Linked DNA regions of Homo sapiens. The protein of the gene in region 2 interacts with the protein of the main gene of each other region in a pairwise test. Each region holds a gene or a part of one and is shown on either strand. Other genes may lie near its edges.

The links.
Region 1: the proteins of PTPN9 (region 2) and FAM114A2 interact in binary tests that used the Homo sapiens proteins (3 or more experiments, as listed by UniProt).
Region 3: the proteins of PTPN9 (region 2) and GET1 interact in binary tests that used the Homo sapiens proteins (3 or more experiments, as listed by UniProt).
Region 4: the proteins of PTPN9 (region 2) and SCAMP1 interact in binary tests that used the Homo sapiens proteins (3 or more experiments, as listed by UniProt).

Annotation. Positions count from the first base shown.
Region 1 is NC_000005.10:154,028,656-154,036,439, forward strand, and holds part of FAM114A2 (protein FAM114A2), read right to left. Parts: exon of another isoform or gene 7,587-7,784; intron 6,313-7,586; 5' UTR 6,299-6,312; coding exon 6,089-6,298; intron 5,723-6,088; coding exon 5,623-5,722; intron 5,229-5,622; coding exon 5,136-5,228; intron 926-5,135; coding exon 834-925; intron 1-833.
Region 2 is NC_000015.10:75,463,746-75,471,529, forward strand, and holds part of PTPN9 (tyrosine-protein phosphatase non-receptor type 9), read right to left. Parts: intron 7,106-7,784; exon of another isoform or gene 7,086-7,105; coding exon 6,935-7,085; intron 6,255-6,934; coding exon 6,047-6,254; intron 5,239-6,046; coding exon 5,024-5,238; 3' UTR 1-5,023. UniProt on the Homo sapiens protein: Protein-tyrosine phosphatase that could participate in the transfer of hydrophobic ligands or in functions of the Golgi apparatus.
Region 3 is NC_000021.9:39,389,931-39,397,714, reverse strand, and holds part of GET1 (guided entry of tail-anchored proteins factor 1), read right to left. Parts: intron 7,018-7,784; coding exon 6,852-7,017; exon of another isoform or gene 6,239-6,851; intron 5,947-6,238; coding exon 5,879-5,946; intron 4,550-5,878; coding exon 4,435-4,549; intron 850-4,434; coding exon 776-849; 3' UTR 1-775. Other genes in the region: GET1-SH3BGR (WRB-SH3BGR readthrough), read right to left, coding at 5,879-5,946, 6,852-7,017. UniProt on the Homo sapiens protein: Required for the post-translational delivery of tail-anchored (TA) proteins to the endoplasmic reticulum (ER).
Region 4 is NC_000005.10:78,362,833-78,370,616, forward strand, and holds part of SCAMP1 (secretory carrier-associated membrane protein 1), read left to right. Parts: intron 1-7,784. UniProt on the Homo sapiens protein: Functions in post-Golgi recycling pathways. Acts as a recycling carrier to the cell surface.

The DNA.
Region 1 (7,784 bases), on a different chromosome or scaffold from region 2:
ACAAAGCTTCACAATGAAATACAACAAAGAAAATCAAATCTACCACACAAACTGCAGCATAGGTAAATTATACAAATATAATGTTGCATGAAAGAAGTTAGATACTATATATGATTCCACTTATGTAAAGCTGAAATGCAGGCAAAATTAACCTATGATGGTGGAAGTCAGGATTATGGTTATCTTGGTGCAGGAGAGGGGGAGAGCAGAAGACACAGAAAACTGGGAGAGGACACAAGATGGTGGGGAGATCTGATTACGGTAATACTGTTTCTTACTCTGGGTGTTTCACACTGAAAATTCAAACAACACTTGTTACATTCTTCTGTATGTATATTTCAATAAAAAGTTAAAATTTAAAAAAAACTAGCTATCTATCCTCATGTAGCAAAGATATTTAGCTTCCTAGATAATCCTCTTACAAATGTTTTTAATCATACATAGTTTTGCAAATATCTGTCATAAAGATCACATTTCCCCTTTGCCTAAAAGATGCAACTATGAGAAAAATATTTTTGTAAAGTAGACATTTTTTAGGGCCACCAAATTAAGAATTCCTAATCCATAAAATAATACGTATATTGCCTCTCTGTAACTCCTACTCCCTTATTTATTGCTACTCCTTTATTTCCTACTTTCTTCCTTATTGCTTTAATGAAAGTTTTCAAGTAGCATTCACTCCACCCATAAGACCAAAGTGACCGATCTTCAGTGGCTTGGACTCCTTTAAAAGTAATCAGTCCACATGGCTGTTCAAAGAAAAGAGAGAGAAAGATATGCAAACCCATTATAATAATGGAAAGGAACAGACCACCTTGCACTTTTTTACTTACTGTGCTCTGAACAGCAGTAGAGATGGTAGAGAATACACCAAATGCCCCAGCCACTGGGGAGGAGTTTTCATTCTCTTTGGCATTTGTCTCTCCTACAAGAGGGAGGGGATGTGTAAACATGAAGGGAAGGTCCCTTAACTCTCAGGCTTTATTAGCATCTATGTGAATTTTTTAAAACTAGACCCTGCTTACTACATACTAGGCCTTAGCCCTTTTTATCATTTTAAACCATTTGCTTATTTTAAAATGAAAGCTAAGATAGGCAGTTTTCATTTTCTTTTCATTTCGAAAATAAAATCCAGTTTTGTAAACAAACTGCTGATATATACAACAGCCTATATGTTGTATGATTCCAATTATATAATCTTCTGGACAAGGTCAAACTGTAAGGTCAGAAAACAGATCAGTAATTGCTAAGAACTGAGAGTAAGGAGAACAGTGACTACAAAAGGACGTGAGAGAACCTTTTTGGGGTAATAAAAATTTTCTTATGTCTCAATTATCAATACAGATATAGGAAACATTCTATATATCTGTATTGATCATTCTATATAGAATGTTTTCTATATCTGTATAATCACAGTGTACTATGATTACACAGTATAAACAGAAGTATATATACTGATCAAAACATGTAAAACTGTACACCTAAAAAGAATAAATTTTACTGTGTGTAAATTATAATTTGATAAACCTGATTTTTAAAAATCCAGTCTATTTTAAATTTTATCCTAGAAAATTATGATTAGTAGAAATCAAACAGACATACATTACAAAGATAGGTATGTTTCAAAACAAAAATCCATTAACTTAAAAATTTCACATAGGAGAACAACCATTATACCAAATAATTTCAGTATTATCAAATATTATAGAGAGGACTTCCACTTCTAGCATGATGGATTAACTGGTATTAGATATGACCTCCTGCCACAACAACTGAAAAACTGGACAATATATAAGAAGCAACTGTCTTCAGACATAGGACAATAGGCAGTACAAGACTTCGGTTCACACAAGAAGAACAACAAAGTAAACCTTACAATTGGCTTGGCTTTCTGTATAGAGGAGCTTTCCAGGCCATGACAGAGGGAGGAGAAACCCAAGTAGGGCATGGCAATCAGTTTGAGTGGAAGAAACGGAGACTGGAATCTGGGAATGCTGAAGCAATCGGAATTTGCAGGTCAGAAAACCGTAGAGGAGGAAGCTACATAGCTAAAAAGTTCTAAGAATCCGCATAGGCATGCCCTAAGACACCTTTAGGTGTTTTTGCTTAAATACTGCACTGCTGAGGCACTGGGAGGCTCCATAAGTCTGTACAAAGAACTACCATGGAGCTCTAAGCTAAGCAATCCCCAGAGCTCACGCTAGGCTGAGAGACATTTGACCTCCAACCACAAAAGCAGAGACTTTATATTAAACACCTGGGAATTAAGGTGGAGACTTCGGAAGAGTCAAGCCTTAGCAGCAGAGATAAACAGTACTTAGTTAGAGTAAAGGCCACTATAGACTCACCCTAAACAAGCTTTACAAAAAGTCTTGGCCAGACACAGCAGCTTATACCTGTAATCCCAGCACTTTGGGAGGCCGAGGCAAGAGGATCACTTGAGGTCAGGAGTTTGAGACCAGCCTGGCCAACACAGCAAAACCTCACCTCTATTAAAAGTACAAAAATTAGCCAGGCATGGTGGCCCATGCTTGCAATCCCAGCTATTTGGGAGGCTGAGGCAGGAGAAGAACTTGAACCCAAGAGGCAGAGGCTGCAGTGAGCTGAGATCGCACCACTGTACTTCAGCCTGGGCGACAGAGTGAGACTCCCTCTCCAAAAAAAAAAAAAAAAGCCTTAAAGCATCAATTTAAGTTGCAAATACCTTAACTGCCCGCCGACAAAAGGAAAGCAGAAGATAGCCCCCTTTAAAGGAAGAAAACAAAATCCCTAATAGATGATCAATGATTTCCATCAATGGCCTATGCTTATCTCAAAATTCTGAAAATATACATGTTGACTACAAGACACATCCTTGGCAGAGGAATTAACCTCCTTCCTCAGGAACTTTAGAAGATAGAAGGGGTTTAGTATCAAAAGGCAGTCCATTGTAATTTTGGAAAGTTCTCCCTGTTAAACTCTTTATTAAACTAAAACTTAACTCTATATAACTTCCACTGAGTGGTACTAGTTACTAGTTCTCCCCATAAACCATGAATAATAAACCTAATCCTCTTCTCCATGCTAGTCTTCAGAAAAAGACCAGGATATTCTCCCAATCTCCCTTCTCCAGATTACCAGATTCAATCTCTTATAAGACTTTCTCTTGTAAGACTTTAATTCTAGACATTTCACTATTGTGAAAGAAAATAAAACTCAGGACCCCAAATTTACTATGCCAAAGGGAACAGTTAAGCTGAAAGCTAAGTTACACAAAAACTGTCTTTCCTTTTGTTCCTAAGCAGAAAGGCCAGACAGAAGGCCAGATGTTTCCACAGGTAGCTACTCTACGTTTACTTTATTTCATGTAAACTGCCAATTTACTGAGCATAAGACAAATACATAATTGACTCTACCTCTGCTCTTTCCTTTTACACGTAAAATGTGGATTCAGTGAACACTGATCAAAGATTCAAAAGAAGGCAACCACTTGCCCCTCTTATCTACCCTCCCCTTTCTTTACTTCCTCTTTCCCCTAGAGCCCACTCTTCTTCCTTTAAATATTGAAGTCACCAGACCCTCTTCAAAAAAAGTATGGAAGGTAGATTGTTTCTGTGGTTTGTGTTCCTTTTTCCCAGGTGCATCCTCAAACTTAGCAAAATAAACCTCTAACTTGATTGAGACCTGTCTCAGACACTTTTTGATTCACACTATCTAGCTGACTCTTTTCTGGATTCACCCAGTTTTTCAAAGCCCTTCTTAAAACATGGCCCTCTGTGGTAGATATCTTTCAGTGTCATGAAGATGCTGCTGTTAACATATTCAAAGCCACTTCTAACCCCCTTTTTCCTTGGCTGCTAAACCCATATCCTGATCTTGAGGTTTCTGATAATGCCCAAAACGCACTCTCTCAGCATCTCTTGCTGCTACATCAAGAACATGAGATCCTGTTCTAGGCAATGGCATTGGAGAAGAAACATGCTTGGGACTCCTGGAAAACATTTCCCCTCTTTAAAGAAAGAGGGATGCATGAGGAAAAATGACACTTCCCATCTACTTCATTCCTGACTTTGAGCATGGTTATTTTAGAACACTATACTTGGAGTTGCAGTATTATCGGACAACCATAAAGAAACTATAAAGAAATCAACAAAGAATACTGTAGAGAAGCCAGCCCAGAACCTTGACATCATTGAGCCACTAAACTAACTCTGGAACAGCCTACTTCTAGAGTCCTTAAGTAAGAAAAATATATTGACTTTCATTCACACATGCTGTTACTTGCAGCTAAAATAGTTTAACTGATGCAGGCATCACTAAGAACAGTGCCTCCAGTTCACATCCATAGTCCTTTGCAGCCATGTTTATACATGTGACTTGTCTCCAGGCCATAAGTGATCCATGGACATATGACCCAAGTTTAGACTGATTCTTTTACCTAGGAATTCAGAAGTGGAAATAACTGATGCCAGGATTCAATATAAAGCTGGAGCTGAGGAAAATAAGCAGCGAAAGTCAGTCTGCTTCAAGAAAAAAACTGAGACAGATCAGCAAAAAGAAACAAGAGTGAGAGACAATAAAGCCCATGAGAGATGAAGAATGCAAACCAGGCCTTGAAAAGATTCCTATTTTCTGGTCCCAGGCCCTCTCGATTTCTGGTTATAATTCTAGCCTTCATAGTTTGAGAGTAGGTTTCTGTCTGATCAAGGCTAGCCTCTAGAATTAAACGTAGTCTTCATAAAAATCTGAACACAAAAGGAATACACCCCCAAAACAATACATTAAAATATTTTTATCATGTCACAACAGACTCAGATTCAGCTAACTCTTATTAGTCTCTTATTCAATTATGCCAAGCAAAATGCTAAGCAATTTTTATATTGTATATTCATGGCCTTATTTGTTAAATGTTTATAACAGTCACTTGAGATATAAAATATCATTCTATTTCAGATGTGGAAAGTGAAGTAAAGGGACACATAAGCAGTTAAAGGACATAGATGTCTAATTGGGAACTAAAGATTCTAAATACTCTTTCTCACTACAGTCCCACGATGCCCTGAGTATCAGATGTCCAATAAATACCTACTGAAAAATTAGTTCAACTGTTCCATTTCAATTCATAATTCTAGGTCTTTATGTTTCCATATACTGACCTGCTACATACTTGACTTCAGTTGAAATTTCACTGGGACCAGGGATTCCAAGGGAAGTCTCTGCCTTCTCGATGACATTTGAAATGCCTTGTCCTAATGAGAAAAATAACTTTTTTTTTTGCTATTTGTCACCAAAACTGAAGAAACAAAAATCAAACTTGAAGATTTTTAAAATCATTTAGGACCACAAGACATGTTATTTTGACAATACATAACTAATCTTGGCACTATTTCCTTAAAAAAATTGATTCATCATCACCAAAGAATAAGTTCACAGTAATAATTCCTAGACTTCAATATTCTAATGAGGAAATGCTACAAACTCTAGTGGCAGTATATATCAGCCCATCATTACTAATGCATCCTCAAATTATAAAGCCTTTGAGTAAACATGGAAGGAAGAAGAATTTTAACCAAGTCATATGCAATGCAGATCTGTATAAAATAAATACACACACAAAAATAACTAAATGACTGATGATCTTACCTACTGTAGCTACTGTAGCCGAGGCTGAGGAGAGTATGGACTTGCCCCAGCTCCCCCAATAACCCCATCTGGTCTGGGGTACATCTTTGGAAACATTATCCTAATTTCCCAGTAGGCAGAAAAACAAAAGGCAAAGAAAAATGAAAAAATTAGAGGAAAATCAGAATGTACAGACAAGGTATCTAATTATTAGCCAAAAGCATGGGTGAACAAATACATATTATTTAGCTAAAGAAATGTATTGCTTGACTGGCAGATATATGCTATCAGCATGTAAGTACCACATAGCAAAAGCAATTATTCATAAAGGCATTTATAGAACTGAAAAGACTGTATTTTAGGGTTGTAAAGAGAAAGAAATAAGAGCAATTCTAAATTGGTATTTATGCCAAATTTCTTTTAGCCCCAACATTTTTTAATCCTAATATTTTAATAGATACCCTACTTTTTCTGTGGTCTGTGATACCTGAATAGGGAGAACTTTTGAAGTCTCAAGGTCACTGGAAGGTTTGGTCTCTGGTCTTTTCCGAGTGGAAACTACAGGTTCTGATTTACTCTCTGGTTTGGCACCTTGGTCAACAGACTCAGAATTCTTGGCTGGCTCACAGTTTCCATCTTCAAGGATGGGGGCTGCTTCAGTTAGCAGTGGAGTCTCAATATCATCTTTATCTGACATGATTAGAACATCAGCTGGTAAAATGAAAGCCCAAAAAAAATTTATATAGGCTTCTTTGGTATAAAGTATTTGTTTAAACTTTTTAGTTTGAGATTATCATAGATTCACATACAAGTATAAGGAATAATACAGAGATCCCATATACCTTCATCCAGTTTCCCCCAATGGTAAAACTTACACAAATATAATATCACAACCAGGAAACTGATATCAATGCAATCCACTGATCTCATTCAGACTTTATCAGTTTTAAACGCACTCATTTGTATTTAGTTCTATAAAATTTTATCGCATGTATACCTTTGTGTGACTATCACCACAATCAAGATACAGAACAGTTCAATCACAAGGATCCCTTGTGCTATCCTTTTTTAGCCATAACCACTTCCGACACTCCTTCCAACCCAAAGCAATTACTGATCTCTCTGATGGACAGGTGTCCTCCATCTCTGTAATTCTGTCATTTCAAGATGTTATATAAATGAAATCATACAGCATATTACCTATTGACATTGACTTTTTTCACTCAGCATAAGCCCCTCAAGATCCATTTAAGTTGTATTAGTATTCCTTCCTTTTTATTTCTGAGTAGTATTCCATAGTATAGATGTATCACAATTTACCCATTTATCCATCGAAGGATATCTGTATTGTTTCCAGTTTGGGACTATTATAAATAAAACAGCTATGAAAGTTCATGTATAGGTTTTTGGGGGAACATAAGCTATCATTTCTCTGGGGTAAATGACCAAGAGTGCAACTGCTGGGTCATATGGTTAAGTTCATGTTTAGTTTTATGAGAAACTGCCATACTCTTTTCCAGACTAGCTACACCATTTTACATTTCCACCAGCAATGTATGACTGATAAGTTTTTCTGCATTCTTGCCAGCATTTGACATTGTCCCTATTTTTTATTTGAGCCATTCTGACAGTTGTGTGGTGATATCTCATTGTGGATTTAAGTTGTACTTCTCTAAGACCTAATAAGGTTGAACATCTTTTCATGTGCCTATATGCCATCTGTATATCCTTGTCAGTGAAATATCTTTGTATCTTTTGCCCATTTTCTAATGAGATTTTTTTTTTACTGTTGAGTTTTGAGAGCTCTTCATATATTCTGTATAATATGTGGTTTGCAAATATTTTTTTCCAGTATGTAGCTTATCTTTTAATTGTCTTCATTGGGCCTTTCAGAGCAAGTCTTTAATTTTAATGAGGTATAATTTATCAATTTTTCCTTTTACTTATTGTCCTTAAAAATCTTACTAGTTATTAATCATTCCTACCTCAATTTTTCCAGGACATCATGAAATTTAAGCCATCAGATTGGCTTTATGTCAGATCAACTTTTGAATACCAGTGTTACTCAATTCAATTCCTTCCAGATGTAGAGCTCTTTGGCAATTAAAGCCAAGATACTATTGGTGTCTCTACAAAGAACAGACACTAGTTTCCAGGATAACCAAGGATTATCAGAGTAGAAA
Region 2 (7,784 bases):
AATTATGAACAGTGCAGTCTAGAACACTTGATATTCACAAGTGTTGTGTAAAGGTAACTATAGGGCGGATACCTCCTAAGAGAAAAAGATGGTTCCCAGGCTGATGGGCATTTCCATTCCTGCCCTTGGTAGGCTCACAGTGGTTTGTGGGAGTAACCAAGGCCAGAGAGAAATCTAAGGACTAGGTTGGGAGCTATAGGACCCTTGGTCTGTTCATGCTTTGCCTCTGAGAAACCCTGTAGACCCCACATTAAGAAACAGGGAAACTTTAAAGGCCTATAGGCTGGTCTTGGAGATGACAGAGACCTGACCTGCTTTTCCTCCAATTGGAAGGCCAAGGGGGAAGAGAACTGAGGGAAGCTAGGGAAGTAGCAGCAGCTTGAAAGAAGAGACTCTGAAAACACACTAAAACTGGAGAGGCTGGGTGTGGTGGCCCATGCCTGTAATCCTCTCACTTTGGGAGGCCGAGGCAGGAGGATTGCTTGAGGCTGGAGTTCGAGACCAGCCTGGGCAACATAGTGAGATCCTGTCTCTAGAGAGAGAGAGAGAAAAAAAAAAAAAGCTGGGTTCCTGCTTGAGCCCAGTTGTTGAGACTGCAGTGAGCCATGATCATGCCACTCCCCTCTAACCTAGGCAACAGAGTGAGACTCTGTCTCTGAAAGTAAAAAAAATGAAAAGTGGGGAGTGCTAGTGGGAGCCAACTCAACCCAAGTAAAGGCCTAATAGCTCCTCTATGGGTGTTTGCACTGTCTAACAAAGAACTGGACCCTGACAGTCAGAGGACCCATGGTAGGATCATCTAGTGTAGCCCCTTCTTTTACAGAGGGAACCTAGGACTTGGGTTTGGTTCAGTGGTAAGACCTCAAAACCACAAAAGAGCTGGGTCACTCTAGAGAAGCTTTTCTACTTGGCCAATGCCTCTTGGCCCAATTCCCTCTAGGTCTCTGATTTATAAAAGTTTTTGTATGTGTGTCTGTCTGTCCCAAGAGACAGGAAGCATTCCTTTCAGGGAAGGAACCAAATTTCCCTAGGGCTATGATGCTAAATAGTCCATTCTCCCAAGAACAAGTCCTACTCTGTCATTTACCTGCATACTGTCACATGAAGACTGATAAGGGTGGGCCTCCGAGGCTGAGGATGCTGGGGCACCCTTCGTCTCAGGAGTCCCATCCTAGCCAATGAGGATGGGCAAGATGAAGGGAGCAATGGGAAAAAGGACACAGGGATTATCTCATGTTTGAAAAATTATATAGCATGGGAATGTTAGAGAAAGGTGAAACAAACAGCCATCAAATCAGAAGCAGAAGCCTGCTTTAGCTCAGTGTTTTCTTCTTTCCTGAACACTGTCTTTCTTTTTTATTTATTTATTTTTTTTGAGATGGAGTTTTACTCTTGTTGCCCAGGCTAGAGTGCAATGGCGCGATCTCGGCTCATTGCAACCTCTGCCTCCCAGATTCAAGTGATTCTCCCATTTCAGCCTCCCGAGTAGCTGGGATTACAAGCACATACCACCACACCCGGGTAATTTTTATATTTTTAGTAGAGATGGGGTTTCATCATATTGGTCAGGCTGGTCTCAAACTCCTGACCTCAGGTGATCTGCCCACCTCGGCCTTCCAAAGTACTGGGATTACAGGCATAAAGCCACTGCACTTGGACCCTGAGCATTTTCTCTTGCTTTGTTCACTAAGTCTCCTGTATGAGAACCCTGACTTGCCAAACAGATTCTGGGTTGCGTCTCTGCCTTCCCTTTCCTTTACCTCCTCCTTTAACACCTAACACAGGTAGGTTCACGCTGGTAAAAGCTACAAACAATGGCAGTGGGAGGAGTTCCTCTGAGTTTTACTGAAAATTTAGGAGACATCAATTTGTTAACTCTCTATAGGGTCAGAAACATGAACTAAATCTATGGTTCCCAAACCTGGATAATCCTGTCACTCACTAACAACCTACTGGATGGGCCCAGAAATCAGCATTTTATGGAGCTGAAGTGATAGATAACCTCACCAGTCTTCAGATATGCAATGAGGAACTCATGCATAACCTTAAATTCACAGGGCAGTCGGGTTACAGCCTCTTCAAATAAATGACAATTTAAAGTTACCTCCTCCAGGCCGTTTATCATTAATCCCATTTCTTACATGTTCCACCAAACCCCTGACCTCTCTGGTTTCTCAGATTTCCAAGAATCTCTGTTCACTTCTTATGTTTGTGCACTCCCAAGAGAATGGAGGCTCATCTGGAGAAGGAACTAGATTAATCTTCTGCTCTACACTTGAGCTCCTGATTATGGTAAGAAACTCGATAAAAATTTATTGGCAGATCAGAAGATGGATCCTTAGAGGAAGTCTAGTGTAAGAGGTGAAAGAAGATACTTTGGAGTCAGATGGTCTGGGATCCTGGCTGTAGCAAATTAACATTCCTGTCTCTCAATTTTTTTCTTCTGTCAATACCTACCTCAAAAGGTTGTTGAGGGTGAATGAGATGATACCTAGAAATTACTCTGAACAGTGCCTGGAATAGAGTGAGCATCCAGTAAATTGGCTGCTATGACTATTATTAAGAACACCCCAATATTTCCCAGCCACAACTGCCCCAACTGGGCAGGCCATCAACAGCCAACAGGTATGATATGGGGAGTGGTCTTCCATGTACAAAGCTTCTGGTTCCTTTCTTTCTAAGAGATAAATGCAAATGACTCAAGATCTTCTCACAAAGACCATGTACCCATAGATATGGAGTCTCCTGGGGAGAATGATAACCCCTTTGGTACGCTGCAGACATGAGGACCCTACATCAGGAGGTCCTAGCTAGGACAGTCAGTCACCAACCCTGTCACCCTTCGCGTCTACTACATGAAGCATGGGCACAAGAACAACAACCTGGAATTTAAGAACTTTTTTTACTCTGAAAGGAGAGCTAAACAAACCTCTGTTCTCCAAACACAAGATCTCCATCTTCCATGCAGTGAAGAGACCACAGGCTTTGTAAGCAGACCAACTTGAGCTCGTTTTAGAGCAAATCACTGTAACCCTCTGGACCTCACCTTCCTCATCTATATAGAAATGAGAAAGGGGTGCACAGGAGAAGGGAGAGAAGATAATATCTCACTGAATTGTTGTGAGGTTTGAATGAGGCAGGGTGGGGGAAAAGCACCTAGCATAGTGCTTAGCACATCTCAAGCACTGAACTGGTGCTGGTCCCTCTGTCCAGAGATAGGGCCATGGCCTACAGACAAGGTGAACTCATAGTGTCAGAACTCAAAGTCTCAGATACTGAAGGCTTGGGTCCCTCCCTGCCTCCCTCATCCCTCCCAGACCAGCTCCTGGACCCCCTCCCTCATGTCCCAGGCTGCTAAATTGATGAAGCTAAAAGGGTTTTGATCATGTCGGTATATTTATATGTAAATACAAAACTGTATCACTGTAAGATATTGAATATGAACATTACAATTATTTTCTGAATCAGACTCAGTCCATTGATATTAAATACAAAATGAAATGATTGTAAAAAATAATAATATACACATTCAAAGAGCTTATTACAGTATAAAATTATTGAGGTCTGATCAGCTGCCAACCTCATCTTCTGTCACAGGGGAAGGTTTAGGAGTTCCTGGGATTTTTTGGGAATGTGGAGTGCTGAGGACTCTTGATTTATCCCTAGCACATAAGGATGAGTGGGCTGGGAGCAGGCAGGGACAGGTTGGGTGGGTAGGGGACAAACAGTGATTGCAGGGGACCACCTCACTCAGCCAGGGGGTGAAGCTTTTTATTGACACAGAACCCACCCAGTTTGAGGGTCTAGCAGGCTAGCAGGCAGGAAGAGATGGGCATCTCGGTAGACAGGGCCAAGCTGCATAAAGGAACCATCCAGCAAAAGAAAAAGGGCCCCAGCTCATCCTCCCAGGGAGGTATTTTCTTAGTGGTTTTTTCTTTCTCATACCTGGGCTCCCCCTCCTTCCTTCTAAGATTCGTACCGATTGCATTTGGCTCTGGCTGCTCAGTGAGTTCATCTCTACCCTCCGCCTCCCATCCCTGGGATAGTGAAAGCAAAGAGAGAGTATGGAATCACAGTGGAGGTCTGTTCCCCAAATTGGCCAAGTAAATGTAGAAAAATCATCGGATAAGGGAAATCCATGCTGAGCTAACCCAGTGTCACCACAAACTAATACATTCTTGGCTCCAACAGGTGGCAACTGGAAGGAGATAAGTCATTACTTAAGGAAGGGGCCCTGTGGCAGGAACATGGAGGAGATGTGTGTGTGTCCTCTTCCACCACTCTGTAGCCTGACAAGAGGAGACATGATCACCAACCCAAGCTAGTCCAGGATAAATAGTAGGGTCCAAGAAGCAAGGAGTCCTGAACTGCAACACGGAGCCCCAGGAACTTCTGGAAAGGAGTATCGTGTGTATATGTATTTATAGAATACGATCATATTATCACATACAATATATATTATATACACACGTACATATGGACCCATACACATAAGTGCACACACACACACACACAGAATGACAGAAAGGACTGGAATACACGCCCTACTTATAAACGTGCTTGGCACTCAGGACGATCTCTAGAATATGTAACTTGGTCAAGCTCTCTGGGGAGAAAGGCAAATGCTCATCAAACCTCCCCATAAAATCCTAGGAAAGGGAAGGAGTGGGAGACAGGAGACCTCAGAAAAAGAATGGCGGGAGAAAGGAGGAGGGAGGTTCCTTCCCCACTTACCTCGGGGACCCTAGCAAAAATCAATAGCCACAATTTGGTTTTAATAAGGCACAGTTTGATAGCAGATGCTAGGAATTAAGAACACATTGCTACTGGCCCTTTCTAGTGGCAATTTCACCACATTTATCTAGCCAAAGGGAAAGGCTGCCTTGCGTGCACACGTGTGCTGGGAGACACAAGAAAGAAGTTGATCCATGGCTTCAGCGTAACTGATGGCAACCTATAGGCTCAGCGGTGTCCAGGGTAGTTTAAGGAAGGCTGGCCAACAGGTAGGAGGTTCGTAGGAGAGTTACTGACTCTCCACGGCCAGCAGGTTTTGGCCAGAGGATACCATGCCCTCCTTCTCTGCGAACTCCAGGATGGCCTTGTAGCAAAAATAGTACTGCTCAGGGGTCTGGATGCTGAAGGCCCTCTGGGTCCTCATGCGTGACACCGTCTGGAACACATTAAGGGTGCCAAGCTCCTCCAGCTGTGCCAGGCAGATGTCCAGTGAGCAGAAGGTACCTGAAGAAGGAAGGAAGTGATCACATCTGGTTTACCTCTCTTCTCTTCCTCCCTCTACCAAATAACCCAGGCAGAACTGAATGAATGACTTCACAGGCAAAGTGCCTCATGGCAGAAGGCCAGGTGGCCTTAGGCCTGAAAGGACTCAAGAAGGAGGTCACAGGGAGTGTTGGAGGCCAGAGAAATGAGAAGGCCTCTTATTTCTCAGGACATACACTTGGGGTAACAGGAAGTGGAAATGGGAAGGTGACACAGGGGAACTTCCTGCTTCAATCCCAGACAGACAGACTGACAGCACTCCCACACCTAATTTCCAGAGTCCACAAGTTTTTCAGAGGCCTAACAAAAACCTATTCTCAACTTTCTCCCAAAGGGACCTTTGAAATAGAAAGGCCAACATTTCCTACCATGTACATGCCCTTAAGGCAAAAGCTGCTAACTGGCTCCAGAATGGAGAACACAGCACAGGGTGGGGAGTCCCTCCAGGGAGGGCTGGATGGGAAGGAAGCAGCAGCCCAGCTGAGCTCTCTGGGATACCTGCAGTGACAGTTCTAACAGGTGACAGAGTCAGCGTTATGATGGGGTGTATAAAACATCAACCCCTAGAGGACTTGGCTTGTGAAATATATATTCTGGCCATCACTTGGTCCACCAAAAGGACATTAGATGAGGGATTTTTCACAGCAATTCACCACCAAGGGAGCAAGTGAGTTCCTTCTCCAATCACAGATGTGGGCTAAGAGCTTTGTTTTTCCTCGTCCACCCCTACTGCCCCTGCAGACACCAAGAGCTGCATTAGGTGCGTTACCTGTCCTGCCAATGCCTGCACTGCAATGGACCACAATGGGTGGCTCAGGGCACTGCCCTTTGGAGCGTGCTCCCATGTTGCTCACAGCCAGACTCTGCTGGTTTCTGACCACTCTCAAGAAGTCAATGAGGGAAGCTGCTGAGGAAGGGACACCATAGTCTGGCCAGCTCAAGAACTGGAAGTGGGTCACCTGGCGTTTCTGCCGTTCCTTAGATAAGAAAAGAAGTAAACGTTAACAAGGTTATTTCTGCCTGCCCCTAGCTACCTCTGGCTTTTCCAGATTCTCAACACCCTGGTTATCCCTACCACCAAGGCTCCTATCCACCACTGTCAACTTTTCCCATAATTGCTTCTTTACTACAAACCCAAAGGAAGGGTTGGTTAATTGGAAAAGGCAGAATTCCTATACTGTAAGATCCAGAATTTTTTTTGAGACAGGATCTCACTCTGTTGCCCAGGTTGGAGTGCAGTGGCACGATCAAACTTACTGCTGCCTTGACCTCACAGGCTTGTGCCACCATGCCCAGCTAATTTGTTCTATGTTTTGTAGAGACAGGATCTCACTGTGTTGCCTAGATTATCTTGAACTCCTGGGCTCAAGTGATCCTTCCACCTCTGCCTCCCAGAGTGCTGGGATTATAGGCCTAAGCCATTGCACCCAGCCCCAGATTTCTAAAATTATAAGCTTTACTCCTATTTAATGTTCCTATCGTGCTGCAGTAATATGGCTATATTGGCTGTGAGTTAAATATCCTCATCCTGTCCCTAGAAAAACAGAAGCAACTCATAACTTCCCTGGTATCCTACCTATTCCCTCTGGAGATTTTCATTACAGTAATTATTCTCCCCCTGTTTCAACAAGGTGAGAAAAAAGAAACCTGGATTTACCTCTGTGTTGTGAATTTCTAGCGTTGTTTTCTTATAATGATTCATGTTCTCCACGCCTAGATTGGTCACTGTGAGGAAGCCAAATCGGATCCGAGAGTCTTTTTCTAAAGGCCAGTACTGGCCACACTTTCTCCTGCCGCCTTCCTCAAAGCTGAAGACACACAGAGCAAGGTAAGCCTTCCATCGTTCCTCTCCACAGCAGTAACCTGGCTTCCCCAAAGACCTGATATACCCCCAGGCAGCAATATCATCTCTTGCATTGCTTCTAACTTACACCATTGATTCTCAGCAGAAAGGAAAGGAAACCTCTTCATTCTAAACAAATGTACTCACAGCTAAAGTTTCTGCATGTACTCATATAGCAGACAGTTACTGAGCACTTACTACAGCATTTGGTCTTTTTCCTAATACGCAATAGTACGTCTCACATATGTGGGATAAATACTGGGTGAACAGAGACAAAAACAGTATAGTAGCTGGGTATAGTGGTGCATGCCTGTAATCCCAGCTACTTGGGAGGTTTAGGCAGGAGAATCACCTAAGACCAGGAGTTTGAGACCAGCCTGGGTAACATCATGAGACTCCATCTCAAAAAAGAAAAAGAAAAAGAAAAAAAAAGAGTAGAGAAAATATGAAAATATGATAGGTCAGAGAGAACTCTCTGATAAACTGATAAACACACATCTACTGGTATGTTAGCAGGAGGTTTGTGTAAAAGCCTGAAGTCCCAGCCCAGGCAACATGGAAACCCTATCTCTACTAAAAATACAAAAATTAGTCAGGCATGGTGGTGGGTACCTGTAGTCCCAGCTACTTAGGAGGCTGAGGTAGGAGGATTGCTTGAATCCAG
Region 3 (7,784 bases), on a different chromosome or scaffold from region 2:
GGCCACACAGGTTATTGGTTCAGATTAATCAGGACTTATAAGGTTTGTTTTCTGTGTTCCATTCTAAAGAGCATAAATATTAAATGCTTATAAAATACACTTCATTCAAAATGCTTTAAATACAAAACACAAGTTGAGCACAAAACAATGCATCATGGTCTCGTGGATACATTTACAAAACACTGTAATGAAAAATTAACAGCCTCAAGTAAGTAGATAATACTATACAACTCTTGCTCAACAAATGACATTTTAAACAAAGGGAGAAAAAGCCCACGCAATGTCAATTAGTGTTGTTCTTTTAACCATATTGAATGTGATTAAAGAAGAAATTTTCGAATTTTTAGTAGTGGTATTAAAATTAAGTTACTTTCTAAACTGGATTAAAAACAGCACTAAGTCTTCAAAGAACTTACTTAAAGTTGTTAGAAAATTTTGACTTTCCAGTTGGCAATATGACCAAAATACATAAGAGGGCAAATCACAAGTGACAGCATGGAGATGTCCCTAAACATTTCACATTTCGTACAGATCGAGGACGGTGTTCACTAGTACATACGTGTCATAAACTGGACTTTCTTGGCTCAATGACAGGTGTAGAAAATCGTGATTCTTATAAGACTCTCTCATAAAGTCCAAGAACAAACATATTCAACAAAAAAAAAATCTAAACTATGCACTTTTGTTTCTTAAAAAACAAAACAGTGTAAATCAGATTTTAAGCTAGGAAGAGGAAATCCGTTTTTTAGCCTCGCGGCTGTATCCATCCTCCTGTTCAGCTGAACGGATGAAGCACAATAGCGACAACTTTGTTACAGACTAAAATCCAACAGGTAATTCCAACACCACCTGAAAACAAAGACATTCACCATGAGAGCGCATACCAGCAGTGCTGCCCCCATCTGTCTCTGCTGTCTTTAACTCACAGCAAAGAGAGTATTTCCATTCTTTTTGAGCAGTGCTGGGCTGAAGTGAAGTTTATGTTTCATAGGTTCAAATTTGTCACTTTCTTTTTTTTTTTTTTTTTTTGAGACGGAGTCTCGCTCTGTCCCCCAGGCTGGAGTGCAATGGTGCGATCTCGGCTCACTGCACCTCTGCCTCCCGGGCTCAAGCGATTCTCCTGCCTCAGCCTCCCGAGTAGCTGGGATTACAGGTGTGCACCACCACACCTGGCTAATTTTTTTTTTGAGACAGAGTCTCGCTCTGTCACCCAGGTGGGAGTACAGTGGCGCGATCTTGGCTCACTGCAAGCTCTACCTCCCGGGTTCACGCCATTGTCCTGCCTCAGCCTCCCGAGTAGCTGGGACTACAGGCGCCCGCCACCGCACCCGGCTAATTTTTTGTATTTTTAGTAGAGATGGGGTTTCACCGTGGTCTCGATCTCCTGAACTCATGATCTGCCCGCCCCGACCTCCCAAAGTGCTGGGATTACAGGCATGAGCCACCGCACCCGGCCGACACCCGGCTAATTTTGTATTTTTAGTACAGACACGGTTTCACCATGTAGGTCAGGCTAGTCTCAAACTCCTGACCTCAGATGATTTGCCTAACTCGGCCTCCAAAAGTGCTGGGATTACAGGTGTGAGCCACCATTCCCAGCCCGAATTTGTCACTTTCTATAGAATCATAGGGCTGTATTCTTTACTAAGCAGGAATTGCAGTGAACGGTGGACCCTGGGCTGAATTTCCCTTTCCTGCCAGAGAGATGTGCATTACTATTTATGATATTAATAGATTCCAAAACCAAACCTGTAAGATTATTTATTTTTCCTTTCTCAGAAAGCATTATAAACAAAGCAATGTCTACCTATGCCTTTCTTGCCCCACCAATAATGGAGAGGCATACATATCCCCCTGTCCAGGAAGACAGGCTGCAAGAGTGACCCATGGACCTGCTGGATGCATGGAAGGGTGGCTGGATGCTTCTCTGGCCGCAGTGCAGAGCTCCTGGCCTAGGCCCAGCTGTGTCAAACAAAGGAGAGGGGAAGGAAAGGGTGGGGAAGGGGACAGGGGTGGTAGCTAAATTGGGAGTCTTTGAAACAGCCATTCCTGGCCAGGCACAGTGGCTCACACCTGTAATCCCAGCACTTTGGGAGGATAAGGCAGGTGGATCACCTGAGGTCAAGAGTTCAAGACCAGCCTGGCCAACATGGTGAAACCCTGTCTCTACTAAAACTACAAAAACTAGTCGGGCGTGTGGTGGGCACCTGTAATCCCAGCTACCGGGGAGGCTGAGGCAGGAGAACCACTTGAACCTGGGAGGTGGAAGTTGCAGTGAGCAGAGATCACACCACTGCACTCCAGCCTGGGCGACAGAGTGAGACTCGGTCTTAAAAAAAAAAAAAATAGTCATTCCTTTTGATACAGTATTCACCTCTAACATAATCACAAATCACAACCAAAGACCAGCAAGTATGTGTGCTGCAGCATTATCTTTAATAGCAAAAAATCAGGACCGGAATAAATATCCTTCATCAGGAAAATCTGCAAATGAGATATCTAAATGAAGAACAGCTACTGAAAATTCCTTAATAAAGAAATTTGCCAGGCAAGGTGACACACCTATAATCCCAGCACTTTGAGAGGCTGAGGAGGGAGGATTGCTTGATGCCAGGAGTTTGGGACCAACCTAAGCAACAAAGCAAGACCCCATCTCTATAAAAAACTTTTTTTTTTAATTAGCTGGGCATGGTGGTGTGCAACTGTGATCCTAACTATTCAGGAGACTAAGGTGGGAGGACCGCTTGAGCCAAGGAGTTCCAGGCTGTAGTGAGCTATGAGGGTGCCACTGCCAGCCTGGGCAACAGAGCAAGACCCTGCCTCAAAAAGAAAAGAGAAGAAAAAAAAGAAAAGAAATGTACTGATATGGTGCTATGGTCTGAATGTTTGTATCCCCCTAAAATTCATATGCTAATATGCTACCCCCCACAGTGATGGCATTAAGAATTGGGGCCTTATGGGAGGTGATTAAGTCACAAGGGCAGAGTCCGTGTGAATGGGATTAGTGCCCTTATAAAAGAGGCCTAAAGGAGCTTGTCCTTCCACCATGCAAGGACATAGTGAGAAGACACCATCCATGAACTGGAAAATGGGCCATCATCAGACACCAAATCTGCCGGCACCTTGATTTTGGACTCCCCAGCCTCCGGAACAGTGAGAAATAAATTTCTGTTGTTTATGAGCTACCCAGTTTATAGTATTTCACTTAACCCTAACAAACTAAAACATGTGGGAATAGGCTTACCCTATAAAGTAAAAAGGAGGCACAACATGTGATGTGCCAGGTGACCTTAACTATATCAAAATAAATGGGGAAAAAAAGGCAAAGAAAAACATATCACAGCATTAAAAGCTAATAGGAATCTTATTTTTTATTTATTTTATTTTATTTGACACAGATTCTCACTCTGTCACCCAGGCTGGGGTACACTGGCGTGATCTCAGCTCACTGCAACCTCTCGGATTCAAGTGATTCTCACACCTCAGCCTCCCAAGTAGCTGGAATTACAGGCACGCACCACCATGCCCAGCTAATTTTTTGTATTTTAGTAGAGATAGGGTTTCACCATGTTGGCCAGGCTGGTCTCAAACTCCTGAGCTCAGGCAATCCGCCCACCTTGGCCTCCCAAAGTGCTAGGATTACAGGCGTGAGCCACTGCACCCAGCTGGGATTTTTAATTGATAGCTATATTTCTAATCATTCTATAGTGACATGTACTACTTTTAATATCTAAAAAAAATTTATCTTCAAAAATAAAAGAACGTGGCTGGGCATAGTGGTTCATGCCTGTAATCTCAGTACTTTGGGAGGCCAAGGCATGAGGATCACTTAAGGTCAGGAGTTTGAGACCAGCCTGGCCAACATGGTGAAACGCTGTCTCTACTAAAAATACAAAAATTAGCTGGGCGTGGTAGTGCATGCCTGTAATTTCAGCTAGTTGGGAGGCTGAGGCATAAGAATTGCTTGAACCTGGGAGGCAGAGGTTGTTGCAGTGAGCCAAGATCGCACCACTGACTCCAGCCTGGGTGACGGAGTGAGACTCAGTCTCAAAAAATAAAAAATAAAAGAATAGCCAGGAGCAGCAAGTGCTACAGAGAAGCCAACCATAATAGGGATTGAAAAGATACATAATTTTGGAACTACGGCTAGTGTTTCAATGGGGTATCAGACTTGACGTATTGGGCATGGATCCCGGAAACAGACCTAGGACTGAATCCTAGCTTTGCTCCTTAACATTTTGGTGACACTGGACAAGTGAAGTAACTTTTTCAGACCTCAGTTTCTTCATGGGAAGCCTCATGTGAGGCTGAGACACAAAACCCCGCTCACTAAATGGACGGTGAGGAGGATGTCAGGCTAACTTAATCTTCTACCACACACCTCTACATAAGCCTATTCACACTCTTCCACTGCATCTTCCAGAAAATTCTTACCTGCTACTCTAGTAGGAAAGGCTACCAGGCGGTCTAGAGGGGTTATCCATTTACTCGGCACGACAGCCACAGGGACAGAATAATACTTCCAAATGAGTGAGATCATCAGGGCAGCCTGTAAAGACACCTCTGGTGAGCAAAGCAGCCTGCCAATCACACAACCGACCACACAGAAGGGAGGACAGGGAAATGCGAAAATAAAACCAGGAAAACTCTCCAGACTGAGCACCTCAAGCCTAGGAACCCAGTCCCCACAGACAACAGATGAGCACGCACAGCCACTAATGTCCCTTGGTGAAACCTTGAATGAGAAAGTCAAATTAAAGACGAGCTCAGCAGCATGTCTGAACACTGCCAACAAGTAGGCGAGCCTTCCTATGTGAACTGGCATTTCACTGTTTTAGGATGAACACAATCTACACATAATTTAAATTAGCTGATAAACTAACCAAAGTCTCCCATAACACGGGTGTGCTTTTCTCACTGAGTATCTCGTTTGAGTAGCCAGACTGTATGCTCAACACACCTTATTAGTGACGAAAGCCATCCTTGGAAAAAATAGTGAATTCTCCCACGTACACCAGTGTTAGCAAGGGACGCAGAGGTGAGCCCTGTGTAAGTTTCAATGGTGGGGGATGCTTTATTTCCCTCCATCCCCCCACAGCATTCCTTCGATTGTCATCTGTCCCCTTCCTGGCTTGAACAGGCCGCTCAGAAGAGACATGAAAGAGGGTTGCTGGCCTAACTCCTTTGTCTGCGGAAACTTATCTCTTAGCAAATGACAGTGCCTCAGAATTAATTTCCTTCAATATACCCTGCCAAACTAAGCTTTTTTGGGGGTGGGCTTGAATCCTTTGCCTTGGTTACCGGATCACATGGTACTGCAACTCGGATATTTACGGCAGCTGCTAAAGGTGTCTGGGCAGCACAACTGCACTCTCGGGGCAGAGCAGAGCCCAACAGCTCCAGGAGAGGCTATGAGGGTTAAGCCCCAGGCAGGGAGGCTAGAAGCCAATTCCAGTCGGAAAAGCTGGTTCTCTACCTGGAGGGTGGAGAGCGTGCATGAAGTACACCAGGTAACAAGTAAGGGCCAAAAGTATTGAAGATCTCAGAAAAAACTGATGTCATCTATAAGCCTCTCGCTTCATCCCACCAGGCCCTTCAAACCACACTGGGATGCAGGCATGGTGAAAGCTCTCCGAGAACTTACTTCACAGTCCATCTGCCAAAAAGTCCCAAACTTTAACAACTCTCCTCAAGAGAAAGGCTTCCTTTTAGTCTGACTTAGAGACCGAGAGTGTTTAGAGCTCCATGTGGGCAGGGACACACGACACGACAGCTGAAGGTGGAACAGCCCGAACTCCCAGCCCTGGATCTGCAGACACGGCTCTGGAGGCCGGGGTCACCAACTCCAATGACCCGGCTGACGCTCTAGCACACTTACCTGCAATACGTAGAAAGCGACACTTATCACCCATTTTATCTTGGCTAATTGAGCTGTCCGAGCTTTCACTGAAAGGAAAAACAGGATAAATAATTATGTCAGTCCTGAAAAATTAACAAAATATTCAAATACACAGAAATGTTATTTTCCCTTATAATACACTTTCTGATTATAAATGGAACAATCGCTCAACATATTTAGAAAATATAAAATAGAATTTTTAAGTCACCCACCATCTCATTATGCCATTATTTAAAATAGTATCCGACTCAGATTGAGATTTGAATAGCTTTAATTTTGAAAACTCTTAAAACGACTCATGAAATCAAAGATTCTTTGTATAATACAGTTACCACTTACCAACAGGACTAAATTTTCCTCCTTATTTCCCAGTGTGCACAGTACACGAACCCCTGGTGGGAGTCCAGCTTGTCCTGGGCCTGGACAGGCCCCTCTGTCTGTTTTCCTAGCCACAGAGACAGCTCTCTGACTGTGCACACACTGTGACCGGGGTCCCTCAGCACACGGGCTGCCCTGAGAAAGCGCTCTTCATCACAGGACACTGGACCCGGGAGGTGACACTCAGAAGAGGACACTGCTGGGCATTTTTCTAGAGAGTGGAACAAAAGCCTCTGGGAATCCACTGTGAGACTTTTTTTCTGGGCTTCTCTCAGAAAAGTGATGAATTTAAAAATGAAAACCTACAATTTTTAAGAGTTAGCTTAAAATTTTAAAGAGTTGGCTCTGAGGAAAATCTGAGAGGATCTTAGATATTTCTGTGCTTAGAAAGCAAAGGTTCACCAGCAAATAAGAGGAAAGTAATACTTATTACTGAGTTTCCTCCAGATAACTTAAGTTTCCATCAATATTCAGAACATCCAAGAAGCAAAGTATGTATTCTACTAATCTTCACATACAGACTTCTCTATTCATCCGCTCTCATGAAGCCTCCAGGCTGCAAGGGACACAGTACCATGGGTTTTGAGCTTATCCGTCATCTTGTTGATCTTTCTTTCCAGCCTGGCATATCTGGCAAACTCGTCCATCATGTTGACTGTGGAGAGCTCCTGCTTCATGTCCTGGATCTCCGCTCTCATCTGTGACTCCTGCTCCGCGTCCTTCTGCAGCACCCTGGACATCTGGCAGGGCGGACAACGGGGATCAGCACCTTCCAACACGGGTCACAGGAGGGTTCCCCAGTCCCCCGCTACTTTCTGTCTATGCCCTGACCACTCTGTGACCCAGCCAGTTGTGTGCGTCCCTGCAGGACTGAATGCAAACTGCGGCCGTGAACGTTCCCAGGACTGATAAAGAGCAAAGGCTGTTGCTGGAGAACACTGGGAGATTCATCCTGCTGAGAAACACCTACAAACTAGCCCCACCATGACAAAGTCCTTAAACTCCCACATACACTCCATACCCCAACCCCCGGGTGGCAGACAGCCCTAGGTAAATGTCCCTTTCTCTCACTGGCTGTCCCGGGACTGCCGCAGCTCTTGTAAGTTCCCGTCATGAATGCTGTGGACTTATCACCCTGGCGTTTAGTGCTTCTTTCTTTGGAATCCAAGCCAGCCCCATCTCCAGGCAGTCTGGAGCAGCCCCTTGAGGGAACTCCCCTGCCACTGCTTTTGAGGTGACTCCAGCATGGGTTTGGCCAGACAGAACCGGTACACCTTCCTCCAACATCCTACTCCCACCTCTGCCAACTGGGCAAGCTGCCCTCTACCTACACAGCCAGCCTCTGCTGCCTTTTTCGGCTCCCTATAACGACCACAAAAAAAAAAAAAAAAAAAACTCATATTCAAATTGCTATTCAAACTATATTTTTCCTTTTACAGATATGCCCATGAATTTGCTCCAATACAAATGTTTGTCTGTTTCACTATAAATAAAATTGCAATTGTGA
Region 4 (7,784 bases), on a different chromosome or scaffold from region 2:
ACTTAAATCTGAAATGTTTCTAGAATCATTTGAGTTACTTTATGATCATTTTTCTTTTTTTACTTTTTTTTTTTTTTTGAGACGGAGTCTTGCACTGTTGCCCCGGCTGGAGTGCAATGGCGTGATCTCAACTCACCACAACCTCTGCCTCCCGTGTTCAAGTGATTCTCCTGCCTCAACCTCCCTAGTAGCTGGTATTACAGGTGCCCGCCACCACACCCGGCTAATTCTTTGTATTTTTAGTAGAGACAGGGTTTCATTGTATTGGCCAGGCTGGTCTTGAACTCCTGACCTCGTGATCCACCTGCCTCAGTCTCCCAAAGTGCTGGGATTACGGGCGGGAGCCACTGCGTTCAAGCAGATCGTTTTTCTTTCTTTCTTTCTTTCTTTTTTTTTTTGAGACGGAGTCTCCCTCTGTCGCCCAGGTTGGAGTGCAGTGGCGCGATCTCTGCTCACTGCAAGCGCTGCCTCCTGGGTTCACACCATTCTCCTGCCTCAGACTCCCAAGTAGCTGGGACTACAGGCGCCCGCCACCACCGGCTGATTTTTTGTATTTTTAGTAGAGACGGGGTTTCACCGTGTTAGCCAGGATGGTCTCGATCTCCTGACCTCGTGATCTACCCGCCTTGGCCTCCCAAAGTGCTGGGATTACAGGCGTGAACCACTGGGCCCGACCCATTTTTCAAATCTGTTTTTATTTGCAGTATTTGAAGATAAAGCTCTTATTTTCAAGTATATGATATTTCGCATTTGGTAACTATGCTAATTTCTTTTTCATTAAATCCTATTTGTTTTCCATTGCCTTTTTCATTTTTTAGCATTTCTTTTCCTTCACTTTTATGTTAGGAATACTTCTGCAAGCATCTTCGTTTGTGCCGTATCATGAAAGTAGTTTGAGTCTATTCTCCTTATATAATATAACCATAGTGGTTTACTTGATTTTATTGGTTCTTGTAAGGCTATTTGCTGGATTCAGTTCATTTTTTTTTGTTGAGCCCCTGCTTTATATTCTAGTGGTTTTCCTAGGCTTAGTGAATGGTTTTATGAAATTTGAATGGCTTTCATTGCGCATCAAGAAACTTGGAATAACTGGAAATCTGTAGTGATCGAAAAGAAAATAGGTGATTAATTATATAGAAGTTTCTGAGGATCCACTCTTGAGCTGTTAAAATGGGGTTTTAAAGCTATAGAGGGAAAAATATTTTCTGTATAGTCAACATGTAATTATTGAAGAATTGCTGTATGTCCTTTGTTTTCTGTTGAGTTTATTCATTCAACAAATACTGAAGAAGTGTCTCTGTCCTTATGGCTATTAGTCTAACAGTGAGACAAATATGCTTGGAAAATGAATGAAAGGGGAGAGTTTAATAACCAGCAGAGGTCAGCAATATAGGCTCTTACAAGTCAGCATAAGAGTGTATGGTTAAGTGCCGGAACAAGTGCAGTTTGTTCATAAAAGGAAGAAATTAGTAAGTGGTCAGAAAATTTTCATGCTTTATGCTTTTGCATATTAACATGATAATTGATTGAATAAGATAGTTCATTATGGAAATAACATTTAAATTAATTTTTAAAATATGAAGAGAATTAGAATTTCACAGCTGGGGGGGCAAATTCTTAAAATATATTCAGTCAGATCTCATAGATTAAAAAACAAAGCCCACAGAGGCACACTTGCTCATTGTCTTGTGCCCATGTGTAGGTAGTGTAGAATTGGCATTAGAACTTAGGTCTCCTGATTTCTAGTCCATTACTGGTGACACTGTATGTGCTCCCTGGTTGCATTTTGATACCAAAATTCTTGTTTTGTATTTGGAGGTTAGAGTTGAGGGGAGGCAGCAGAGGATAGGATTAAAAAATTTTGGCTCAAGAATTTGAAAAGATCTGGGCTTGATCCTGGCTTTGACACTAACTGGTTGTGAGACCTTGGAAAGTTACTTAACCTCTTTCAGACTCAGTTTACTCATCGCGTGTTCTCACTCATAGGTGGGAATTGAATAATGAGAACACTTGGACACAGGGTGGGGAACATCACACACCGGGGTCTGTCATGGGGTGGGGGGAGGGGAGAAGGATAGGAGATATACCTAATGTAAATGACGAGTTAATGGGTGCAGCACACCAACATGGCACATGTATACATATGTAACCTGTACGTTGTGCACATGTACCCTAGAAGTATTAAAAAAGAAAGACTCAGTTTACTATTTTGTAAAATAGGGTAATAGTACATTCTCTATAGGATTGTAAATAGGATTAGATGAACATACATTTAGCATATAGTAAGAGCTTAATGTATAGTGGTTTTAATTAGGTACTAATATTTAGTATTAATAGTAATTTAAGAAATTCTGTTTAATGGCCAGGCGCAGTGGCTCACGCCTGTAATCCCAGCACTTTGGGAGGCTGAGGCGGGCGAATCACGAGGTCAGGAGTTCGAGACCAGCCTGGCCAACATGGTGAAACCCCGTCTCTACCAAAAACACAAAAAATTAGCTTGGCGTGGTGGCGGGCACCTGTAATCCCAGCTACTTGGGAGGCTGAGGCAGGAGAATTGCTTGAACCTGGGAGGTGGAGGTTGCAGTGAGCTGAGATGGCACCACTGCACTCCAGCCTGGGCGACAGTGCGAGACTCATCTCAAAAAAAAAAAAAAAAAAAAAAAAAAGTTCTGTTTAATAATCTCTATATGCTTAGCTATGAATTTAGTGAAATTTATGTTACTTTTGGATCTTCTGGAGTGCTGGTAGTAGCTGTTTGACTGATCATAGTCAAGGAATCAAAGCTAAAAATAATTAAGTGCTTTGCCTACATCAACCTGCTAGACTAGACCAAGGTTGTCTGAATTCTGGTGCTTTTTCACAACACGTAGTTCCTCCCTAATAAAATATCTCCATGTTAAAATTGAGCATAGTGTCCATTTTGTTTTGGCCTCAAAAATTAATTTTAGTCTATTGAAATTTTTTTTAGAAATGGCCTAAAATTCAGCATTCTCACTTATGTTATCTTTTAAGTTACAGTAATCTGGTGGCATTGTAAGAGTTGAAATTTAAAATTGAAAATGACCCATAATTCAAGTGTGTTATTCATTTGTCTTAGTCTGTTTGGGCTGCTGTAACAAAGTATAGTACCTCACAGTGGGTAATTTATAAACAACAGAAATTTATTGCCCAGAACTCTGGAGGCTAGGAAGTCCAAGATCAAGGTCCCAGCAGATTCAGTGTATGGTGAGTCCTTTTCCTCATTGATGGCATCTTCTTTGTGTCCTCACATGGCAGAAGGGGATGGCAGCTCTTTGGGGCCCTTTTCTTTTCTTTTCTTTTTTTTTTTTGAGACGGAGTCTTGCTCTGTCGCCCAGGCTGGAGTGCAGGGGTGCCATCTCGGCTCACTGCAACCTCCATCTCCTGGGTTCAAGCGATTCCCCTACCTCAGCCTCCCGAGTAGCTGGGATTATAGGTGCATGCCACCATGCCCAGCTAATTTTTGTATTTTTAGTAGAGACGGAGTTTCACTATGTTGGCCAGGCTGGCCTTGAACTCTTGGCCTCAAGTGATCCACCTGCCTCAGCCTTCCAGAGTGCTGGGATTACAGGTGTATGCCACCACACTTGGCCTCTGGGTCCTTTTTTTAATAGGGATATTAATCCCATTCTTGAGAGCAGAGCCCTGCTGACCTAGTCACCTCACAAAGTCTTCACCTTCTGATACCATCACGTTGGTGATAGGTTTCAGCATGTGATTTTTAAGGAAACAAACGTTCAGACCTTAGTTTTCATTTTGTAACATCAAGAATGTTATCCATCTTATTTCATTTACCTTGACAATGATACTTACAAGTTGATTTCACTCCTCCCTTATCTGTTTAAAATTTTGAGGCTGAGCTTGATAGCTCATGCTTGTAATCCCAGTGCTTTGGGAAGCCAAGGCAGGAGGATTGCTTGAACCCAAGAGTTTGAGACCAGCCTGGGCAACATAGTGAGACTTCCATCTCTACTAAAATTTAAAAGTTAGCTGGGTGTGGTGGTGCACACCTGTAATCTAAGCTACTTGGGAGGCTGAGGCGGGAGGGTGACAGAGTGAGACCCTGTCTCAAAAAAAAAAAAAAAAACCCAAAAAACAAACAAAAAAAAGATATAAAATTTTGAGTTTGGAGATTGGATAGCACTAGGAAAGTATTCTGAGGATTTCCTTTGTGATTGTCACATTTTGAAAACTGTCTTTTAACATTAATCTGGAACATAGTGGTTGCAGTTTGTGGGCCTGTGTTATTTTACGTTCATGTCAACTGCATGAATTCCTGCTCATTTTTCCTCATGTTAATGTTTTTAAAAAGCACATATTGAGCTGCTGTTATATTTCATCAACTTAAGATGCCATCCTTTGTAAGATGCACCATTATCTTATTTACCACTGTCTCACTTATCTGTTGCTATGTAACAATCCCAAAATATAATGGCTTAAAATAACAATTATTTGCTCACGATTCTGTTAATTGCGCTAGACTTAGCTGGGCAGGTTTTTTCTTTTTTTTAATGTTCTTTTCTGGAGTCACTAAAGTGGCTTCAGTCACCTGGTTTATGGTTTCAGATATCCTTACTCAAGTGCCTGCTGGTTACCTGGAGATGTCAGTGGGCACAGCAATTAGCTGTCTTTCATGTAGCCTCTCTACTAGTAATAAATGGGCTTTGTGCATAGTAGCAGCAGTGCTCCCAGAGGGCAAGAGCTGAATCTACAAGGCTTCTTGAATCATATGCTACTTCTGCTGTATTCTGTTGGTCAAAACAAGGCACAAGTTCAGCCTAGATTTTAAAAGGAGTGGCAAGCAATAGGCTCCACTTCTTGACTGGAGACAGACCTATGATCTGAAGATACACCTAGTATAAAATGGCGAGGTAGTCGTAGGATAACTTCACTAGACACTCCCATTCAAATAGGGAAAGAGTGGGAGGCGTGTAGCACCTGCTGATGCATAGCAGTTCTGAAATCTAGCCAGGCACGTGTTGTTAGGGTCCCCTACATTGGGGACAATGAATGTTTCTTGATTAGGGCCCAGTTCTGCTACCTCGTATTGGTTCCTTCACCTGTTATTTTCTTCTGCTTTTGGCTCCACCCTCTGAGAGGTCCTTTATTTATTTTTTTCTATAAGAATGAGCCCTTTTGGCAGCTGAGTAGCATTTTTGGCCTGCTTCTTGCCCATTGAAAATTGGGAGCCCAGAAGTTTCTATTAATTTTGAACTGTTTCTTTAGTCCAGGCTGTCACAACTCTCTTAACAGTTTCTTTTTAATCTTACCAGAGTTCAAACCATGCCTTAAAAACCACATTTGTCATTCTTTTTGAGACAATCTTCATTTAGGGTGAAGTGTCCGTTGCCATGGTCGGTATTCTTCAGATGTTTAGAAAACTTTTGTCTAGGTTGAGCATCTCATATGGCCAGGGGAAGGCTGCTGCCATAGGAGGCTGCTGTGCCACGTGACAAAACTAAGATTTGAACACAGTTTTATTTTGGCCCTGTAGCTTTACAGTCATATGAGATGATGGTGATTATGAAAATTTCGAAAGTAAACTGTTCTTGTGCTGATATTACCAAAAGTTTTTTTTGGACTATGATTAATATTTAATAGTGATAAATGCAGATCCAAATAATTTATTGGTTATTTCCTTAATATGAACCACCAGTGTGATATAGTTGCTGAAAAATATATATTGGCTTAGTGAAATTAGTGATCAGTTCCTTAAAATTAATAATCCTATAGTATTCTGTTCTGGTCTAATAGCTGGGTATTCTTCTCAATTGCAAGTGCATATTTAAAGAGTGGTTTGAAAATACTAGGATATGCCCAAAGAGGACAGTCAGAATGGTCATGGGACTGGAATCAAGTTCTAGGAAGAACAATTTAAGTTTCAATTACTCAGTGGATTTAGTCTACAGAGGGCTAAAGGGAAATAGGAGAGCTCCCATCAGATACTTAAAGTGTTCTTAGGTAAGTGAATAAACTTGTTATTTGTTGCTTTAGAAAAAGAATCTAAGGTTAACTGGCAAAGTTTACTTGAAGGTAAAGGTAAATTTTGTCCAAACAGACTTTTAAAAATCTGCTACCATGGCCTGACAATGCTCTTTTGGTAGGGCATTCTCCAGCACTTGCAGAAATTCAAGCAGAAGTTGGATAACCTACAGAGATGCCTAATTTCAATATTGTAATGTCTCAGGGAATAGGGAGACCCAAGGAGAGGGACAGAGAATGGGAACAACTGGTTGGTGGAATAGTCAGGACACACAATTTTTTTTTTTTTTTTGAGACAGGGTCTCTCTCTGTCTCCAAGGCTGGAGTGCAGTGGCGTGATCTCGGCTCACTGCAACCTCCACCACGCAGGTTCAAGCGATTTTCCTGCCTTAGCCTCCCGAGTAGCTGGGACTATAGGCGTGCACCGCCACACCTGGTTACTTTTTGTATTTTTAGTAGAGACGGGGTTTCACCATGTTGGCCAGGCTGGTCTCCAACTCCTGACCTCAGGTGATCTGCCTGCCTTGGCCTCCCAAAGTGCTGGGATTACAAGCGTGAGTCATCGTGCCCGGCCAGGACACATAACATTTATCAAGTAAGTTTGCAGTGTTATGGGCATGGTTTGTGGCACCCCAAGACAATTACAGTAGTAACATCAAGTATCACTGATCACAGATCACCATAGCAGACATAATGATAATGAAAAAGTTTGCAATATTGCGAATACTACCGTAGTGTGACGCTAGAGATGTGAAGTGAGCACATGCTGTTGGGAAAATGGTGCTGCGAGACTTGCTTGATGCAGGGTTGCCACAAACCTTCAATTTATTTTTTTAAAAAAGGCAATATCTGTGAAGTACAGTGAAACTAGGTATTCCTGCATTTTCTCTGTTCTAATATATCGACCATATTGGATATTGGAATTAAGTATGATCAGTTCAGCTAGAGAGGATGCTTTATGTTCAGAGACCAGCTATGCTCTGAGCCTCAGCTTCTGCTGAGGGAGCAGCCCTCATGGTAGCTTACACATTTGTGATCATGTCCTCTAGGGTGTGACTTTTGCCACCCTGGCCTCAGCTGACTGATCTTAACAAAGGTACTTGTCCAAAGCAGTGGAATAGCAGTTATCTCACTAGGCTTTTGAAGGCCATTTTCAAGAATTCCTGTCCTTCATTAGAGGTGTTTTTTAACTAGAAGGGATGTGCCATGTCATGAAGAATTTCAATCTCTGTGAAACCTGGCGTTCTTCTTTCTGTATATATCTTTAAAATATTCTCCTGCTCCCAGCATTTGGGGTGACCTGAGTGAGTCTGTCTGTTTCAACCAGAATTGCTAAACCGTAAGTGTAAAGTAACATTTTCTTGCCAAAAGGGTGATAGAGTTAAGCCTGTATTTAGACCTACAGTTTTTGGTGGTGTAGTGGAGTAATATACTTGCAAATATTGTAAGATGTTTTTAAATCACAAGGGAGAATTTTCCAACTTTCAGTGGGTGTGGGATATAAAAGGTGACATGGAGTTTGGTTAGATTTAACCTTGTAACAAGTCTCTGAGTTGTTCCTACTGAGGCAGTCTGTAATGTCCTGCAGCGTTTGACTTCATATGTGTAGACTGGTGTGGAAAACCCTGTTCTCCTTTCTGTGCAGAAGGCTTGCAGATCTATACCCAGAGAGCAATCCAGTAATCCCCTTCTCCTTGGCATTTGGCTTTGGGTGCTTTTCAGAATTAGTAATGTTTCTTTATCCATTGCTGGACACCTAAGTTGTTTCTGTTTTTTGTCTATTA